4 linked regions of the Homo sapiens genome follow. The protein of the gene in region 2 purifies or fractionates together with the protein of the main gene of each other region. This does not show direct contact. Each region holds a gene or a part of one and is shown on either strand. Other genes may lie near its edges.

Region 1 (4,853 bases), on a different chromosome or scaffold from region 2:
GGGTGCCGGTGCTTCACGTCTTCATTTTGAAAGAGCATCATTAATTTCAGAGAGAGTGTTTATGTATCTACCTATTTACATATATATTCATATTTATTTATTTGCTAGGGGTTGTGGTGGCAGGCGGATGAAATAGAAAAGGAAAAAAAGGGAGAATTTGAGTGAATATGGTTTAAATCAAAGGATTAAAAAAAACACTGTGTAGTTTGAACACTGGGGTCATTTGGTGTGCGTGTCTGTGTTTTAAAACAAGCATTAGAGGGATATTTGCCCTTCAGCAGGAAGGAATTCCGTGAACGAGGAGGGGGGAGGGGGGAAGATCTGTAGATTTTTCAAATAAAAAGTCAGTTGTGTTTATCTCACAACTTACCTCTTGGGTAGGGGGCAGGGATTTGCTGTGGGATGGTGATGGAGGTAAAGACAAGGAAGAAGGAAAAGGCCCTTGGAAACTCCAGACTCCAGGACAGGACAGGGAGGGAAGTGGCTGCGCAGCACTGCGTCCCCGCCCCAAGCCCCGCGCGCCTGGCAATCGCGTGCCCACCGCCGGAGCGCGGCGTCCCCGTGCAGTCCTGGCAACCTGTCACCGAGGAGGACGTGACTCGGAGCTGCCTCCGCTTTCTCCAAGCCATATTCCTTTAAGATGATGTAATAGTCATTTCCCTGGATGGTTTCTTGCCTGCACTGCTGAAACAACAGCATCCGAACTGCACTGGGAACTGTGGAACCACCCAGCTCCGCCGCCAGAGAAGCCGGAGCCCCGGGCCCCCCGCCGGCATCTCTGCGCTGCGTTGGCCTCTGGCTCGCACCGGCTCCCACCTGGCTGGGAACATGGGAGTCCGTTTGCCCTTGCCGGCAGGTGGGGTGGCTACCTGGGACCCTAGCAGGGCACATCTCTCCATCTTTCTGCTTCTGGGCTTTCTGAAAAGCTTCTAAGTCCTGGTACCTCTTGCAACTCTCTTCTAAGGATCCTTTCCAAAGATTTCTTTTTCCATTTTTCTTTTCCCCTGGGGAAGCTTTGGTTGAATATTTTCTCTGCTTTACTTCTTCAACCCAACCTCCTCTCATCAGGGCTTAACTTTTTTTGCGACTTGTTTTAACTTAAGATACGGAATGAACACATATGTACCTACATACATACATAAATACAAATAGGCATTTATATAAATGCATATATATAATAGTTATTTTCCAAGAGCACACCTCTCTGGCACTTTTCATTGATACCTCGGTCGTTTACCTGTTTGGGATTTGACAAGATCCAGACTCAGTTTGGCTGTGGATTTTGATTGCTTTACAAATGGTTATTATTATTTTTTTCACAAGAACTGGGTCTCCAGCACTCACTAAGGTAAGCTCTAAGACTTATTGCTTTTCCTGTCCAGCTGAAAAAAAAATTCCCATTTGGAAGTTGAAAATTGCATGTTTCTTTTTAATGTAGACTTACAAGTAAATTGTTTTTCATACTAATTGCTGGAGACAGAGGCTTATAGATAAACATGTAGGCACAAAATAGCATGAGAGAAGCTATGATTTAATTGAAGAATGGCTGAGATCAGTAGTTCCAGAGCTGCTTATGTAAAATAATCTCTCTCTCCCTCCCTCTGTTTTTCCCTCCCTCCCTCTCTCTCTCTCCAGAGGACTCTTTTTCTGACTCATTCCAGGTTTGAGGAAATAATTTTTTCTCTTTTCCTTCAGACGGACATCTGAGTAACTGGGGAATTGGCCTGCCTTGCATGTGAGCTTGATGGAAGATTGGATATAGACGAGTTGATTATATTTTATGAAGTAGCAGCTCACTACCATCCACCATCCAGGGTTTAAACTACTTTTTCAGCATCACTTCACCTGTGGACTCTTATACATTTTGATTTCTTGGGGGAAAAATACTGGGATAAGAGGAGGTCATTTTTTAATAAGTTAGCATCCTTTTCCCTTTCTTACAAGTTGATCCAAAGGATAAGGCTGTGACTCCATTGGATTGCACCTTTAAATCAAAATAGCAGCAGCAGAAGAAAGGGACAATGGCTCTGAGTGGAAACTGTAGTCGTTATTATCCTCGAGAACAAGGGTCCGCAGTTCCCAACTCCTTCCCTGAGGTGGTAGAGCTGAATGTCGGGGGTCAAGTTTATTTTACTCGCCATTCCACATTGATAAGCATCCCTCATTCCCTCCTGTGGAAAATGTTTTCCCCAAAGAGAGACACGGCTAATGATCTAGCCAAGGACTCCAAGGGAAGGTTTTTCATTGACAGAGATGGATTCTTGTTCCGTTATATTCTGGACTATCTCAGGGACAGGCAGGTGGTCCTGCCTGATCACTTTCCAGAAAAAGGAAGACTGAAAAGGGAAGCTGAATACTTCCAGCTCCCAGACTTGGTCAAACTCCTGACCCCCGATGAAATCAAGCAAAGCCCAGATGAATTCTGCCACAGTGACTTTGAAGATGCCTCCCAAGGAAGCGACACAAGAATCTGCCCCCCTTCCTCCCTGCTCCCTGCCGACCGCAAGTGGGGTTTCATTACTGTGGGTTACAGAGGATCCTGCACCTTGGGCAGAGAGGGACAGGCAGATGCCAAGTTTCGGAGAGTTCCCCGGATTTTGGTTTGTGGAAGGATTTCCTTGGCAAAAGAAGTCTTTGGAGAAACTTTGAATGAAAGCAGAGACCCTGATCGAGCCCCAGAAAGATACACCTCCAGATTTTATCTCAAATTCAAGCACCTGGAAAGGGCTTTTGATATGTTGTCAGAGTGTGGATTCCACATGGTGGCCTGTAACTCATCGGTGACAGCATCTTTCATCAACCAATATACAGATGACAAGATCTGGTCAAGCTACACTGAATATGTCTTCTACCGTAAGTACAAAGGGTTGTTTTAATTTTTTATGTGTGTCAATGCTCTTCACAAATGTATATGGTCTGTGTGTTCTCTCCATACCTAAGGAACATGGTTTGGAATTCTTTTTAACTCTTGAGTTGTAGTTAGAGGATTAGAGGTTATAATTCAGCTCTCATGTCTAACCTAAGGCAACTTTTATCCAATGAGGTCACAGAATATTCAAAGGCCTCCAAAATAATAAAATGCAAATGATATTGGTATATGCAATATGTAAAATGGAACAAGCATGTATGTCTTTTTGTTTTTGCCAGATATTGAATTGAGAAAATAAGGTTGATTATTACATCTTGGCTGTTTGTCCACAGGAGCTTGGTATACTCAGTGGGTGAATTACTGCTGTCTATTCATTTAGCTGGACTTTGAGGTCTATTAAGCTGGTTGCTGAAGACTTGCTTTCATCAGGGGCTTTGAAAACACAAATGGATGTTGCAATGAATAATGTGGTCTTGGCTAGATGGCAGTACAGACTGCTGAAAGGCCCCCTGCTCCCCCCAAGTCTAAATTTTGCTTTTAAGGGTTTTACAAATCTGCTGTTTGATTCTGAAGCCTTTTGTACTGAGACCTGAGTTGCACTGCAGACTTAATTAAGCTGAACTTCATTTAAGATCTATGTAAAAGGAACTAGATCCTTCAGAATTGTCAATCACATTTAAACACCTTCAGACAGCTGAGGTGGTAGAATTACTGACATAAAAGGAAGCCAGAGAGGGAAGAAATGAAACAATGATACTGAAGCCTTTTAAGTAAGGGGTTCTTAGAGGTCAGTTCATTTGCTTAAATGAAGATACCCTGCAGATTCCTCATTTTATGATATGGCATTATTCTAAACTATAAACTGTGAGCCATTGATCCCTGAAAGGAAAAGAGTAAATCAGCCTGCACTCTTTGGTACTTGATTTTAACTGCCGATTTTCAACAGGCCCAGGAGTTGGGTGAAGTAAATTCCACAAGAAATATGTTTCCAGTGTTAACATTTGATTTCCTCTATTCTTATTCTAAAACAAATCCAGAATTCAGGATTAAAATATCTAAATTTCTTTAAACATAAAAGTAGGACTGAATTTCTTGGACTGGTTTTTTTCCTTAGTTATGTTTAATCATTTGGCAATGGTGCCGGGAACCTTGGTAGAGAGGCTAGTGGGAAGCCAAGTCATTCTCTACTAAGCTATCACACATTTGGTTAAGACACATGTATTGCATAGCCAGAACAACCTGTGGAAAAAAACGAAATCAGTAATCAGTTCAGGAGTATATTGATGTGCGATAACAAACATCATTTGGTTCATTAATCCTATCTGTGGCCTTTATCTACAATCTATATCTTTCTTTATGCTAGAGCTTAGTGGACAGGTATTGTCTTCTTCCTTTTGGTAAATTTCCCACTAGTGTAGAGATAAGATTCCGGCTTTTTAGCTTTCTATAAAGGAATATGACATTATCTATAATTCTGAAGCAGAAATATCTTCTCCAAACTTTTTGGAGAAGTACATCTTAAAGATAGTTCCAATGCAGCTTTGTAATATTTACCATGTTCTCCGATTTTGAATATTTGAAAACATAGCATCGTAAGAAGCTTCAACCAAATAAATGGAAACATACCAGTTATACCCTCCAAAAAGACCACATTGGATTTATAGTCACTTGCTTACATAAATGAGACCCACACACTGAAATTTATTTGTCTACCAGTGGCATTTCTGTGTTCATCAAAGGCTCATCTGTCCAACACGATTTCCCTTTAGATTTATCTGGACAGGCTCCATTCTCCTGACTATGTCGTTTCTTCTTTCTTTGTTGAATTGCTGAGAGATTGCTGAGGAACAGTTTGTTCTCCATCTCTCCATGGACAGGCTAGCACAAATGCACAGGAACTTCATACCAGCAGCATATATCTTGCAAATGATATACTTCCCCTTTGTACCCACCATCTAGAGCTAAGTGTTAACTCTTCCTCTGT
Region 2 (4,853 bases):
ATTTTCAGAGGCCAACGCAGGAGGATTCCTTGAGCCCAGGAGTTTGAGACAAGACTGGGCAAAACAGAGAGGACCCAACTCTACAAAATTTTTTTAAAAATTAGCCAGACTTGGCCTGGGCACGGAGGCTCACATCTGTAATCTCAGGACTTTGGGAGGTCAAGGCGGGCAGATCATGAGGTCAGGAGTTCAAGACCAGCCTGGCCAACATGGTGAAACCCTGTCTCTATGAAAAATACAAAAATTAGCTGGGCACGGTGGCTCACGCCTGTAATCCCAGCACTTTGGGAGGCTGAGGCGGGTGGATCACCTGAGGTCCGGAGTTCGAGACCAGCCTGAGCAACATGGAGAAACCCTGTCTCTACTAAAAATACAAAATTAGCCGGGTGTGGTGGCGCATGCCTGTAATCCCAGCTACTCCGGAGGCTGAGGCAGGAGAATGGCTTGAACCTGGGAGGCGGAGGTTGCTGTGAGCCAAGATCGCGCCATTGCACTCAAGCCTGGGCAATAAGAATGAAACTCTGTCTCAAAAAAAAAAATACAAAAATTAGCTGGGTGTGATGGTGGGCTCCCGTAATCCCAGCTACTCAGGAGGCTGAGGCAGGAGAATCGGAGAATCGCTTGAACCCAGGAGGCGGAGGTTGCAGTGAGCCAAGATCATGCCATTGCACTCCAGCCTGGGCAACAGAGCAAGACTCCATCTCAGAAAAAAAAAAAATTAGCCGGACTTGGCTTGGAGCAGTGGCTCACGCCTGTAATCCCAGCACTTCAGGAGGCTGAGGAGGGTGAATCATGAGGTTAGGTGTTCGAGACCAACCTGACCAACATGGTGAAACCCCATGTCCACTAAAAATACAAAAACTTATCTGGGCATGGTGGCACGCACCTGTAATCCCAGCTATTCAGAAGGCTGAGGCAGGAGAATCACTGGAACCCAGGAGGCAGAGGTTGCAGTGAGCCGAGATCACACCATTGTGCTCCAGCCTAGGCAACAGAGCAAGACTCTATCTCGAGAAAAAAAAAAAAAGTTAGCCAGACTTGGTGGCATATGTCTGTGATCCCAGCTTACTTGGGAGGGGCTGAGGTGGGTGGATGACTTGAGCCCAGGAGGTCAAGGCTGCAGCGATTGTACCACTGCACTCCTGCCTGGGCAGCAGAGGGATACTCTACCTCAAAAAAAAAAAAAAAAAAAGGCTGGGCGCGGTGGCTCACGCCTGTAATCCCAGCATTTTGGGAGGCCGAGGCGGGCGGATCACGAGGTCAGGAGATCGAGACCATCCTGGCTAACACGGTGAAACCCCGTCTCTACTAAAAAAAAAAAAAAAAAAAAAAAAGTCTGTTGGATAGATAAATGGATGAATTCATATTCTAATCATTTTACCTGCTATGAAATCTCAAACAAGTTATTAAACCTCACTAGTTGGTTATTCAGCTTTAAAATGAGAATAATACTATCTAAAATAGTATGAAATGAAATTAGAACATGTATAAAAATGCTGGGTATGAAGTAAGTTACATTTTCTCTACGTGAATTTCCTTGACTCTCAACCTCATCTTTGTTATTGATACTCAGATCTATAATTTCAGCCCAATATTTCAAGTCCATATTTCTTTTCTTTCTTTCTTTCTTTTTTTTTTTTTTTTTTTGAGATGGAGTCTTGCTCTGTTGCCAGGCTGGAGTGCAGTAGTGCGATCTTGGCTCACTGCAACCTCTGCCTCCTGGGTTCAAGCGATTCTTGTGTCTCAGCCTCCCAAGTAGCTGGGATTACAGGCACACGACACCACACCCAGCTGATTTGTGTATTTTTAGCAGAGACGGGGTTTCACCATGTTAGCCAGGCTGGTCTTGAACTCCTGGCCTTGTGATCCACCTGCCTCAGCCTCCCAAAGTGCTGGGATTATAGGCGTGAGCCACCGCGCCCAGCCTCAAGTCCATATTTCTAACTGACTCTGAGGCATTTTTAATGTATGATGAATAATCTCAAAATCAAAATATCCAAGATGAAGCTCAATTTTTTCTTACTCCCAAACAGCTCCCAGTAAATGAGACTGAAGCCTTGGAATTACATCAGACCCTTTCAAATCACTGAGTCCTCTTAACTCTTTTGTTGAAATGTTTCATTGATATCGATCCCTCCTTACACAGGATGATGATGATAATGATAACGATGATGGTGGCTAACATGTATACAGTCCTTAGGACGTATCGAGCATTTTCCTGAGGAAACTATATTACCTTATTTAATCCTCAAACAATCCAATGAGGTGTTATTATCCCCATTTTAGAGATAAGAAAACTGAGGCACAGAAAAGTTATATAACTTGCCTATAAAAAAGTTATACTATTAATGAGTAGCAGAGCTAATCCATACTCTTACCAGCCACCCTACACAGTCTCTGTACATGAGACTGCCTCTCTCTAAGAGCACCTGCACAAATAGCAGCTAGGCTAATACTTTGAGTAGTCTTTTGGCTTCAAATTGAAAGATTGGTCTATCCAATCTTCAGTTCAAGGTAAATATGGCATCAAAAAAATCACCCAGAAAGAAAGGGATTAATCTGCTCAGCACGATGCGGTCCCCTGCTCAGGTGGTCAGACCCTGTGCTCACGCCAGGTCACTACCACTAACACGCCTAACCACTGGGGGCACCACTGCTCCTGCCACCCCAAGAGTAAAGAAGAGTAGAATGCTTCCCCCTTGAGTCAGTAAAGATACAGTTATAGATTGTCAAAGAGACACTCTACTCTGCAGCTTAAGGAAATCTGAACAATAAAGACCCCTCAACCCACAGCAATTAGTTAATCAACCAAGTGCAAATTTATACCTAATTTTTTTAACAGCCTTGTCTGGCTCTCAAGAATGGATGCTTGACAGTGGGCTAAAATGTATATCTTGAGGTAGCTTTTTAGTTTGTACTGGTCCTAGGTCTGATGGGATCTCTACCCCAATCAAGATTTCCTCACAATCTTATCTCCAGGATGCCACCTCCCACATTCCCCTCTAGCCCACAGCTACATTTCTCTAAAACCACTCTAACCCACTCTCCATTTCCACATATTGCCCCTAAAGATGTTTTCTCTAAACTAGGGTTTCTCATTCTCTGCACTATTAACATTTTGAGCAAGATAATTCTTTGTTGCCAGGGGCTGTGCTTTGTAGGATATTTAGAATCATCTTTGGCTTCTACACATTAGATATCAGGAGCATGTATCCCTCCCCATCCCCTACCCCCAACTGTAACAACCAAAAATGCCTCCAGATAGTATAGCGTCTGAGTCTAGGGTAGTAGTTGAAAACCACTACCCTAACTAATAGTTCTCGAGGTGTGATCCCCAGACCAGTACATCTGCATCCCCAGGGACTTGCTAGAAATGTCAGTTCTCAGGCCCTAGCCCAGATCTACTGAATCAGAATTTCCAGGGGAAGGGCCTGATAACCTGTGAACTAACTACCTTTCCAGGTGGTTCTGACGGATGTTAAAGTTTGAGAACTATTGATCTAAACATAAGGCCATCCTTAGGGAATAAAAGCAACTCTGCTTCTTTTCTAAGTCTCCATGGCTCCGGCCCCCTAGGTCCAACCCTTGCTTTGATCCACTTCTATTTGTGCTGTTTGATTAATCTATAATCTCTTTTGCCCCTAACCTATTGTTAAGACTGCTCTATCCTCTTCAGAAAACATTGGCTTCCCCACTGGCATTTTAGGCTGGTCCCACTGGAAGCCCTATGGCCTCAAAAGCAGGAACCATCTTTCTCTAGACACAAAGTCAGAAAGGGACCTTCCAAGTCTTCCCACCCCAATGCTCAGGTGTCCCTCTATGTCCCTAACCATCTCTCTGTTCTCTCTCTCTCTCTTTTTGTTTAGAGCTGGGGGTCTCACTATATTGCCCAGGCTGGTCTTGAACTCCTGGGCTCCAGTGATCCTCTGCCTTGGCCTCCCAAGGTGCTGGGGACTACAGGTGTGAGCCACTAGATCCAGCCAAATCCCTGTTTTCTGTCAGCCTCCTCTAGCTCCCTGCTATAAGACAGAAGCAACGATTGGCAAGTCCTGGGCTCAGGGCACCAACAAGTCTTTCTGGCTTTGGTAGCCAGTTCCAATACTTTCCCAGGTTTTATGGATGACTCACCTCTTGGGTACTCTACAGGAAAGTGATCTTCCAAAATTTTTTCATTGTATTTTTCAACTAACATACCTTAAAACATAGAGTCCATTTAGAATGTCCCAAAACAGTGTGTATCATCAGAGTCCATGTGGCAGCAGATCTTTCATCACAACACACCACCAGAGTCAACTTCCTAAATCTTATTTCTCCTTTGCTCAGCAATTGCCAGTAGCTAAACAGTGTTAGCAGATAAAAGTACAAACTTTTTAGTCAGGCTTCATGGTTTTCCATGGGAAGTGATGAGCAGAGCAGTTTGGAGCCAGATTTAACTAGGATTCAATTCCAGCTGGACTGCTGAGTAGCTGCATGACCTGAGACAAGTCATTAAACCACTCTGAGTCTCATTTTCCTGGTCTACAAAATGTAGATAAGTCCACATCAGAGTTTTGCTGTTAGAATCCCTGAAATCATGAATCTAAGTACCACACAAATGCCACTGTTAGTAAAACTTTTTAAATCAAGCTATTTTGGGGCTTTACAACCATTAACTCACCCCTAACATGCTCTCCAAAGCAGGTACACACTTGGTGTAATAAGCAGACACATAGGTGGCCGTATCGAGCTTACCCAAAATTCCTGTACTCTTTACAATGTAGTGCTGAGCAACAAAGAAGCCTCTTCCCCTGTGCCCACACCCACACTCACTTCTGCCCCTCAGCTGCAGGGCTGCCCCAGCCCTCTCAAATCAG
Region 3 (4,853 bases), on a different chromosome or scaffold from region 2:
TCCTAGCTTCAAGCTGCTACAGAAGCTGAAAATTGCTAACCCTGGGGAATGAAGAACAGAAAGATGAGATGAAAATACCTAGCTGTACCTGGAACACTTCTGAGATTTTTAGTGACATGACCCACTCACTACATTTCCTCTTTTTTTGTTTATGCCAATTTGGTTAGGGCTTTCTATTACACAACTAAAAGTCCCAGTTGTGACTGTAGCCTGTCATGGCTTTTTTTTTTTTCTCACAGGTCCAAGGTCTGGTCTTGACCATCTGTATTTTATTTCCTTATCTGGAAGAGGAGCCATTGAAGAGTAGAACTGCCAAGTTTCCCCCTTGAAGCCTGTTTTTCCTTCAACCCTACTCTTGTCTTGCAGTTTTTTCAAGAACTGAGGTCCTCCTTGCATTGGACGTGAGAGGTAAGAAAGAAAAGACAATAGTAACAACCACCTAGAAGATTGCTCCCTTACTCCTCCTACTTAAAACCCCATACCTTAGCATCATCACTCCTGAAGACTTTAGAGTGCCTGACCTTTATTACAGCACCTCTATCTTGGCAAGGTAGGGGTTCCGTGTGAAGAAAGAAGCTCTGAGTACCCCACAGAAGTTAGAAACTTTAGCCAACAGTGATGGTTGGGTAAGAGGTTCCCATATAAGAAGGGCTGAGAACTTGAAGATTCTGGCCTATTTGACCAACTTAGACAGTCACTCCTTGTCTTTCATGAGAATCTCTACAGTGACTGATACAAGTTGTGTGCTTTTTGCTTCTTGGTATCCTTCCCAAAGGGTTTGTGGTGGTTGGGTTCTGTATACAAAGGTGTTCTAGTTATCATTTTTACCTAATTCATGGATTAATTAGAGCTGTACTGAAATCCTACTATAATAATCACACATCTGTTTAGAGCTTGAAAGTTTACAAATTGCTTTTACATATATCATGTCATTTAATGTCATGAACCTAAGTCAAAAGAACATTGAGTGGAAAGTAAGCTAGACATTAAGTCTGTGTCACAGATGGAGACACTGTGACTTACAGCCATGGTTTGCCTAAGATCACACAGCTAGGAAATGGGGGAGCTGGAGGCTGGCACATTCCATTCAAATTCAGGAATTCCCGCCCTCTCCACTGTCATGCAATCTCTCTGATAGGTCAGTTTGGAACTAAGGAAAATACAAAAGGAGTGTGAAACATGGTCTGATTGAAAAAAATAAGGCACATATGCAAGACCCGAACAGCTATTTAGGATATAAGCTCTTGAAATGAAAAAGATTATGATGTCTCTCCTGTGTGTAATTCAAAAATACAAAACAAGGCTAAACAAGTGTGGGAACTCCTCTTAAGTTCTGATTTTTTCTATGATAACCACTTCAGTGCTTCTTTTTGAAACACTCAATATCAAATCTTTTTACAAAGAGTTTTTGTTTTCTGTGTCTTTGATTTGCTTTTGTCCTAAGCTGTGCTTAGCTGACCTGCTGGGTGGCTTGGTATAGGCTGTCAGTAATGTAATGGCAAAAGTGGTGGCTAAACACAATAATACTAGCTTTATGCCACTTAGTATATGGAATGTAATAGGTACTCAAAAAATACTTCTTACTCACAAGGGAACAATATTGATAATTTAGACATTAGAAAAATACCCCACTCATTACTAAATCTGTTCTGGGATATTTGAAAACTTTTGGGGACCATACTTCAGTTATTCTGAATCACTGGACTAAAGAACAGTTGACTCAAGGCTTTAAATAGATAATCAAATTACTATCAATTTTGTTCAAATCAGTTGCTCAAGATTTAAAAAAGGTACTTTGAATCCAAAGCTCCATTTAGTGGCTTCATTTAAATATTGCCCTTTTCAAATGACCACTATTTTTCTTGCCTGGAGTTGCAGCCCAACTCTGCTTTATTATACAGCAAATTGCTATATAAGTGAAGGACGCACCTGCCACGCCTCAACTTTCTTGATGTCTGCACAGGAGCCATTGGTGAAGAGCCCTCTCCCAGGTAAGCAGGTATATATATCTTGCAAGGCGTGGGCAATGGAGTAGACTGCTAAGTACACATTGTAGGATATCCGTAAATGCGTGTAATCTATGTAAGGGGTCTCGACACTGCTGATGTTCTCATCCCCTGTACAGAGGGGTCGGAAGGCTGTCGAGCTGTTGCTAAACCTGTCGCCACTTTCTTCGTGACCTCTCAGAAAGGTGTCCACAGGTAAAGGTCCTTTTGCACCTTCTTGGAGGTGGCAGTTAAATGTTTCTTCCCAAAACTCCTTGGCAAAACCATTGTGGACAGACTTCCTGGGATGGACCTTCTTCAGGAATTCCCGGAAGCCTGGGATCTGCCCAGCCTTCAGAGCGAATCCAATGGTGCCGCCAACCACGTGGAAGTACTGAGGCATGGCGATCAGGGAGGAGCTGGCCCAGGCCTCGCTGGCCAGCCAGATCTTGCCCGTGATATTGCGCCGGACAATCTCCTTGATGAGGGGCTCAAGATCTGGGCCACTGGAGAAAACCACGATGACTTTGGCCGTGGAATTTTGAATCACCTCTACCACATGCTGGATCTCTTCCTCATCAGAGTACTGGGAGATGAGTTCACTGAAGTCGATGCAGATATCCCTTTCCTCAGCTTCCTCTCGGAATTTCTCAATCCCCGGCCGCCCATAGTCGTCATCAGCTGCAATTGTGCCCACCCAGTTCCAGCGGAAATACTCGATGATGTCTGCCATGGCAGTGGCCTGGTGCTCATCATTGGGGATGGTTCGGAGGAAAGACTTGAATTGATTCTTGTTGCTGAGGAGTCTGCTGGAGGAGGCATAACTGACCTGGAGAGAACCAAGAACATGGTGAATGAGTGAGTGAGTGAGTGAAGAGGTGCTGAGTGAGCCTCCAGGCTGTTGTGGAGGTGGCTTTCTGAGCATGCCTTGGTCTCATTTATCAACTATGCTGTTCACTGTATACAGGATGAAAGAAAGGGTAAGGAAAAGCAGCATCTGTTCCACTCCAGAGTGAGCACTTAAGCACCTTTCAGTCTTTGAGGGAGCATCCCAATTCCCAATGGATGATTCTTCACAATGCTAACTTCAAAACTGGGTCTGGCCATAAAATCAACCCAACAATAGTGGGATGTACTTAGCCTTTCAAGAAGAGTCTTTATGCACCGTTTCATGTCTTCTCTAACCTCCTCTGTGCTGCCTCATTGGTTATAATATATCCATGTACACAACTTTGGCTTGTTGGGCTCAGCTTCTGATCTGAAGAGTTTAACTTCCCTTTACTGCAATAAACACTTTGTTCATAATTTGCCTGTGGAAGGAATCGGGTTCCCCATGGATTATAAACTTAAGGCTCTTCAGAGGAGTCCCCGGGAATTCCCTTTTCTTATTCTGCCTAATTTCTCTCTTCCCCTCCTCTGGTTATTCCTCCTCCTCCCTCTCCTCCCCGCACCCCAGTACTTTAGAAAAAACTAAGCTTAATTGCAGTCATTTCTGAGAACTGTTTCTTTTAGGCTCAATTAGACCACTAAGACCACTAGGCTCAATCCCCCTGTATCACAATAACAATGACGTATGTAATTAAATATCATCAGAAAAACCTCCCTTCCTCTCCATCCCACTATTGTTGGATTGATTTTATGGCCAGACCCACTTTTTTTTTTTTTTTATTATACTTTAAGTTCTAGGGTACTTGTGCACAACGTGCAGGTTTGTTACATATGTATACATGTGCCATGTTGGTGTGCTGCACCCATTAACTCATTGTTAGCAGACCCACTTTTGAAGGTCGCATTGTGAAGAATCTTCCATTGGGAAGCACCTTCCAGAGCCCTTTCCTTTATTCAGTTATAGGTGATGGCTGAGCCTGCTTGACAGGCTTTTGATATGGGTCTTGAAAATCTTAAGAGGCTGAACAGGAACCCTGGAGAAGCTGTCTTGACATGTTTGCACTCTCTAAGACATAGCCACTTCTGCATCTGAGCAAGGGTGTGGACTACCAAGGGAAGAAAGTCTTGCCCTTGATGTTAAGAGATCGTTGCTTGAAGAAGTAGCCAAATACCATGTAAAGCATTAGTTAGTGCAGAGCTTTCCCACTTCTTTTCACATTATGGCAACACATGGAGCAAACAGAGGAAGCTGATCAACCCTGGTGGGAGTGCTCTGACCACTCAGGCCCCACCTGGTCACCCCAACACTTGAGGAGATCCACATCTTTGATGAGGCCGGCTTCAGCTCATTTGCAGCACTCTGTGTCATCATGGCTCACCACTTAGGAAGTTCCAAGTTATGGGACCATTTTTTCTGAAGAACGAAACATTTTTACACAAATGGAATTTCTTCTAGGAAATGAAGTAGCTTAATATCTTGTGTTCTCTAGTTTTTCCAGAGAGATTTTAAACTTCTTAAGAAAACAAGTCAAAGGTATTTGGGAGAATGCCTTTTTAATATCTTTCACCATTTAAAACAATTAATTTTCCATGTCCAATATTTTTAAGTAAAAATTTCCAGACCATCCTGGCTAACACGGTGAAACCCCGTCTCGACTAAAAATACAAAAAATTAGCCGGGCGTGGTGGCGGGCGCCTGTAGTCCCAGCTACTCGGGAGGCTGAGGCAGGAGAATGGCGTGAACCCGGGAGGCAGAGCTTGCAGTGAGCTGAGATCCTGCCACTGCACTCCAGCCTGGGTGACAGAGCCAGACTCCATCTCAAAAAAAAAAAAAAAAAAATTTCCAATGTGTTTCTTCTTATTGATGGATAGTTTCTACATTAGAAACATAAAAGGCGTTGGTCTGTAAAAAAATTAGGCCAACTTGACTAAAAAGTAAGTATGACTGTTTTCTGACAAGAGCTTTTATTTTAGAAGTTA
Region 4 (4,853 bases), about 96 Mb from region 2:
GACTGGATGACTTGTGGGAGATGGAAGGGGTAGAGGAAAAAGGGCAGTTCCTACATAGCTGATTTCATAGGGTATAATGTTTTCTTACAGATACCATATGCATGCAAGTATAACAGGGTTTTGGGAGAACTTACCTGGGAGCAGCATAAATCAGAAGAAGACAGCATATGCATTTTAAGATTTGAGGGTTTTTTTTAATGTGTATAAAAATTTTGTTGATTTACTATTATTCCTCAAGTTATGTACCTTTTATTTCCCACTTTCATAACCAACTCAGAAATTTCTCATCCCTATAGGTAGCATCACTGTCCTTCCTGTCATGATGCTCACAGCCTCAGGACAACCTTTGGTCTTGCTCTTATTTATCACTTACCATCTCCTGTTGAATCTGTCCATTCTATCCCTGTAATCCATCATACCTCTTTCTTTTCCTAGTGCCACTACTCCCAGTTCAGAGTCACAAAAGGTTGTCCCTTTTGATATCACCCACTCGTTCATCTACTATTTATTGAGTTTCTTCTTTATCCCTTTGTCAGAGACCAGGGACACAAAGATGAATGGCTTCCTTGCCCTCAAGTAGTCAAGTCTAGTATGACATAGGCTTATCAACAAATATTCACAGTATATATTCCTAAAACTGTTTTGAAAAAAAGTCACTATATTATCTTCAGATAATGTGCTTTTATTATTCCCAGCTATAAATACTAGAAAAGTAAGCTAAATAACTAGCTGTGTTTTGCCTTTTTCTGGCTTATTTTACCCAAATTAACAGTGTAAGCTTAGATGTACCTTCAAAACCTAAACCTGCATTCTCTAATTTCTGTGTCATCCTTGATGCCTAGAGCTGTCATTGACAAGTGTCTGTTTTAGAACTAATACACTTCAAGAACAACATTCTGCTCACTGAGCAGTTCCATTATTTGTCATGAAAGAGCTGCACATTCAGATCTGTATTTGTATTTGTATCTGTATATACTTCCTAAATTCAGATTTAATGGTCTGACTTTCCTTCTGATGAACAGCAGCCAACCCATCATCCCCAGACAATGAATGGAAACAGTGGTTTTGTGGATCTTCTTCCTAAATCTGTTGAGGAAAGGACATTTTCAAAGTAAGGAGTGAGAAGGAAGATGAATTGTTTATGGGAGATCATGATATAAAAACCATGTTGTTCTGTTTTATTTCTAGCTACAAGAAAACACATGAAACCCTGAGTCACGCAGGGCAAAAGGCAACTGCAGCTTTCAGCAACGTTGGAACGGCCATCAGCAAGAAGTTCGGAGACATGAGGTACTGTGGGAAAATACCATGGGAACGGCGCTAAGCCCTTGGCTTTCCGATTGAAGGGAGCACTAGCTATTAGCTGCTCATCTCAACATATGTATTTTTTTATTTTAATGGATAAAAATGTTATATGGCTGATATGATTGATGACTAAGATAAATTTTCACACTGGGACATTTTCTGCCTGAAGGTCAGGCTTAGGTGGCCTGGTCCCAGAGTTGCTGTTTCTACTAGGACCCGACCTGGTAAAAATAGAAGATACAGGGTAGTGAGGCAGATTTGAAAAGAATGCAGCATGTGCAAATTCTTACTAGCTGTAATATAAATGATAAATTAAAACATGCATTTAGTGGAATGCACTCCCATAAACTATTCTAGATTGCATATTTGTATACATCCATCTAGTATATTTTTTCTGTGTTAAATAGGTACATATTTATCCTTTTATTCCATAAAGGTACCACACATATACACTTCTGGTAGTTTTCTTTCTTCATTTTCTAACTATTTTGTGAGTATGTTAAATATTTATTGCACCTTCATTTTTAATGAATTTATCTCCCAGTGCGTAGCTATAGCAATGCTTTTAGATAAGTAACCTTGCACATTTTCATTATTTTCAATATTTCACTGTTACATAAAATAAGGGTGACCATCAAGGTTGATTTTGACTTGAGAACCAAAAGTTCTCACTGGAGGCACCAGGAAAAAAAAAATGTAGTATTGCCCATAGTTTTTCATATTATATACAATATTATATACAATATATTATATACCATATTATATAGAGGTATTACTCTTAGTTTTTGCTTATTTAAATACCAGTCATAGTTTTATTTTGCATTTGGCTGATATGCCTTGGAGGATTTTTCTTTAGAAATCAGTTTCATTTTTCCCTCTATTCTTTAAAAACTTTTCGAGCACATTTTACATTTCTTCTTTAAAAAAAAAAAATCTCTGCGTATTTATTTTACTGGATTCTTAAACTGTTACTTTTTTATTAAAAAGAAAAAGCTTTGGGCTGGGCACAGTGGCTCATGCCTGTAATCCCGTCATTTTGGGAGACTGAGGCAGGTGGATCCCTTGAGGTCAGGAGTTAGAGACCAGCCTGACCAACATGGTGAGACCCTGTCTCCATTAAAAAATATATATATATACACAAAAATTAGCCAGGCATGGTTGTGTGTGCCTGTAGTCCCAGCTGCTGAGGAGGCTGAGGCAGGAGAATCACTTGAACCCAGGAGGCAGAGGTTGCAGTGAGCCCAGATCACGCCACTGCACTCCAGCCTAGGCAATAGAGTGAGACTCTGTCTCAAAAAAAAAAAAAAAAAAAGAAGGAAAAGCTTTGACACTGAGAGGCAAATATCTTCCTAACTTTACACTTATAGATACATCTTTATAAATTATATTATTAAATTTTATTTACTTCAAAAATTGCTGGACTGTCCACAATATTCATTCACTATTTTAACAACTAGGCATTCACAAGGACATGTGCATGAATCTGAGTACATTGTTTTATCTTCATTTTTACTAATGCCACAATAATAAAAAGTAATTGAAATTCTTCAGAAGCAGGTGTGATAAACAGGTAAACCTTCTGGATTATTAATTACCCCTAATTTTATTACAAATAAAATTTGTAATAATTTTAACGGCGTTATAACATTTATCTAAACTAATTAAATAATCCTTTAAAATAGGAAACCCTCTATAACCTGTTATACCCAAGAAAACATATTTTCCCATGTTTATAAAATTGATTCTCTTCATACTGTGTTGAAATCTTTCACTTGAACCCTGGGAACTCCAGCATGACACTGCTAACTAGAATAGTGCTTCTGCATCTTTAGGAGATCTTACAAACACCTCTGAAGCTTGTTTAGAATACATATTCTTAGGTTGCACCTCTCAGAGGTTGTGCTCAGTAAGTCTGAGGTGGAGTCTAGGAATCTGCATTTATAACAAGCTTCCAGATAATTTGGCTTCAGAGGGTCAGTTTATGAGGAAGACAGACATAGCTTAGCTCACCTGTATCTGGGGTTTTCACTAATAAAATGGAGATAAGAATAACAATGTCACTGGACTGTTATAAAAGTAGCAGAAGAAAGTCTGACATGTATTATGCACTCAAAAAATTGCAGTTTTTTATCTTTAAGTGACCAGCTCAGTTACAAGATGGCCCCACATGGTAGAAATTAGGGAGAGTACATTAACAGGAGCCCACTGTATTTCATAAAGGCCCTGCTCATTGTTTTTCCCAATAGTGAAGAATGAAGACTGTGTTTCACATATGCAATATGTTGGCATTCATATTCAAACACTAATTGGGTACAATGTCAAGGTTGTATTGACTGCCTTTCCTCCCGTTTCAATGTGGCTTTGTCTAGTATAGTGGATGGCCTATTTTCCAGGACTTCCAAACTTTCCATTTGTTATTATCCCATGTAGAGGGTACAACATTTTCATTATAAACTGTGGCTAAAAATATTGGAAAATACAATCTGTGTTGCTAGATAATCAAATACAATCCTGAAATATTTTGAAGAGTTTGAAAATTTCAGAGCTTTATTTATATAATATTTTATGTGTATATTTCTCTCAAACTATATCTAACATTTGTATATAAATGAGAATAACTCTTTGTGAAAGCAACAAGTTTTACAAAGATTTTTACTTTTAAATTATGCCCAAACAAGTAATATAAATAAAAGTCATTTTGAAAGTGTTTAAACTTAATAAAAGACCTTAAATGGGAAAAAATAGTAAGCTTTGATTGTTTGTTCAAAAACTAATGTGCCAATTTGTAAATATGGGGAATATGTTAAAATTTGGTCACAGACCTTTTATTTTAAACTTCTTTTTGGTTAAAAGTGTCATATTAGTCTACATTTTTATTAGTTACACTATAACATTTTTGTGCATTCTGGTAACAAATTTCTGAATGTATTCAAAAACATTACCAGCAAAATTCAGATAGCTTGGAAGAACAACAGTACCTCTCAGTTTTTCTTTAAAATAACTCCAAATTAATATTTACAGATTTTGTAAAACCTAGAATTTGGGCCTTTTAATAGCTGAAAAAAAAGCTTTATGTTAAGATTTAATTTGTATGTTTTGTAAAAATAAGTTATATTTTTCTGAGCTAAGTAAGATTCTCATTTTAACCTGATTGTCATGGAATTGCCCACTCTCTTTCTCCATCCATAAAATAACATTGTTAATACCCACTTAACCAAAATATTTCCTGTGAAGTTAAAATGAGGTCACACTTAGGAAAGTACTCAGAAGAAATCCAAGCGGTTGGAATCATTTTTCTAATAACATTGGCATCTTCTGGGAACTTCTCAGTTAATTTGTTCAAACTGATCCACTGGGGACAAAATGTTTGGAGAAGGCATGTCATTTTATTACAGTCCAATCATTGTTATATACTTATAGGAATAACAGAAGCAAAACTTGAGTTGGTAAAATGATTTGTCAGAGACATTAAAAAGTCAGTGTAATCAAGAGTGGTAAATGAAGCTACCCTGTCTGTGCTCTGGGGCCCTTGAAAGGGGACCACCAAG

What was found.
Region 1: the proteins of GABBR1 (region 2) and KCTD16 purify together in Homo sapiens (affinity purification with western blotting, with the first as the bait; one study listed by BioGRID). This does not show direct contact.
Region 3: the proteins of GABBR1 (region 2) and CASR purify together in Homo sapiens (affinity purification with western blotting; one study listed by BioGRID). This does not show direct contact.
Region 4: the proteins of GABBR1 (region 2) and TPD52L1 purify together in Homo sapiens (affinity purification with mass spectrometry; one large-scale study listed by BioGRID and IntAct). This does not show direct contact.

Annotation. Positions count from the first base shown.
Region 1 is NC_000005.10:144,204,694-144,209,546, forward strand, and holds part of KCTD16 (BTB/POZ domain-containing protein KCTD16), read left to right. Parts: intron 1-697; exon of another isoform or gene 698-1,348; intron 1,349-1,635; exon of another isoform or gene 1,636-1,695; 5' UTR 1,696-2,021; coding exon 2,022-2,853; intron 2,854-4,853. UniProt on the Homo sapiens protein: Auxiliary subunit of GABA-B receptors that determine the pharmacology and kinetics of the receptor response. Increases agonist potency and markedly alter the G-protein signaling of the receptors by accelerating onset and promoting desensitization.
Region 2 is NC_000006.12:29,615,674-29,620,526, forward strand, and holds part of GABBR1 (gamma-aminobutyric acid type B receptor subunit 1 isoform a precursor), read right to left. Parts: intron 1-4,853.
Region 3 is NC_000003.12:122,259,489-122,264,341, reverse strand, and holds part of CASR (extracellular calcium-sensing receptor isoform 2 precursor), read right to left. Parts: intron 2,815-4,853; coding exon 1,930-2,814; intron 1-1,929. UniProt on the Homo sapiens protein: G-protein-coupled receptor that senses changes in the extracellular concentration of calcium ions and plays a key role in maintaining calcium homeostasis.
Region 4 is NC_000006.12:125,247,094-125,251,946, forward strand, and holds part of TPD52L1 (tumor protein D53), read left to right. Parts: intron 1-1,188; coding exon 1,189-1,290; intron 1,291-4,853.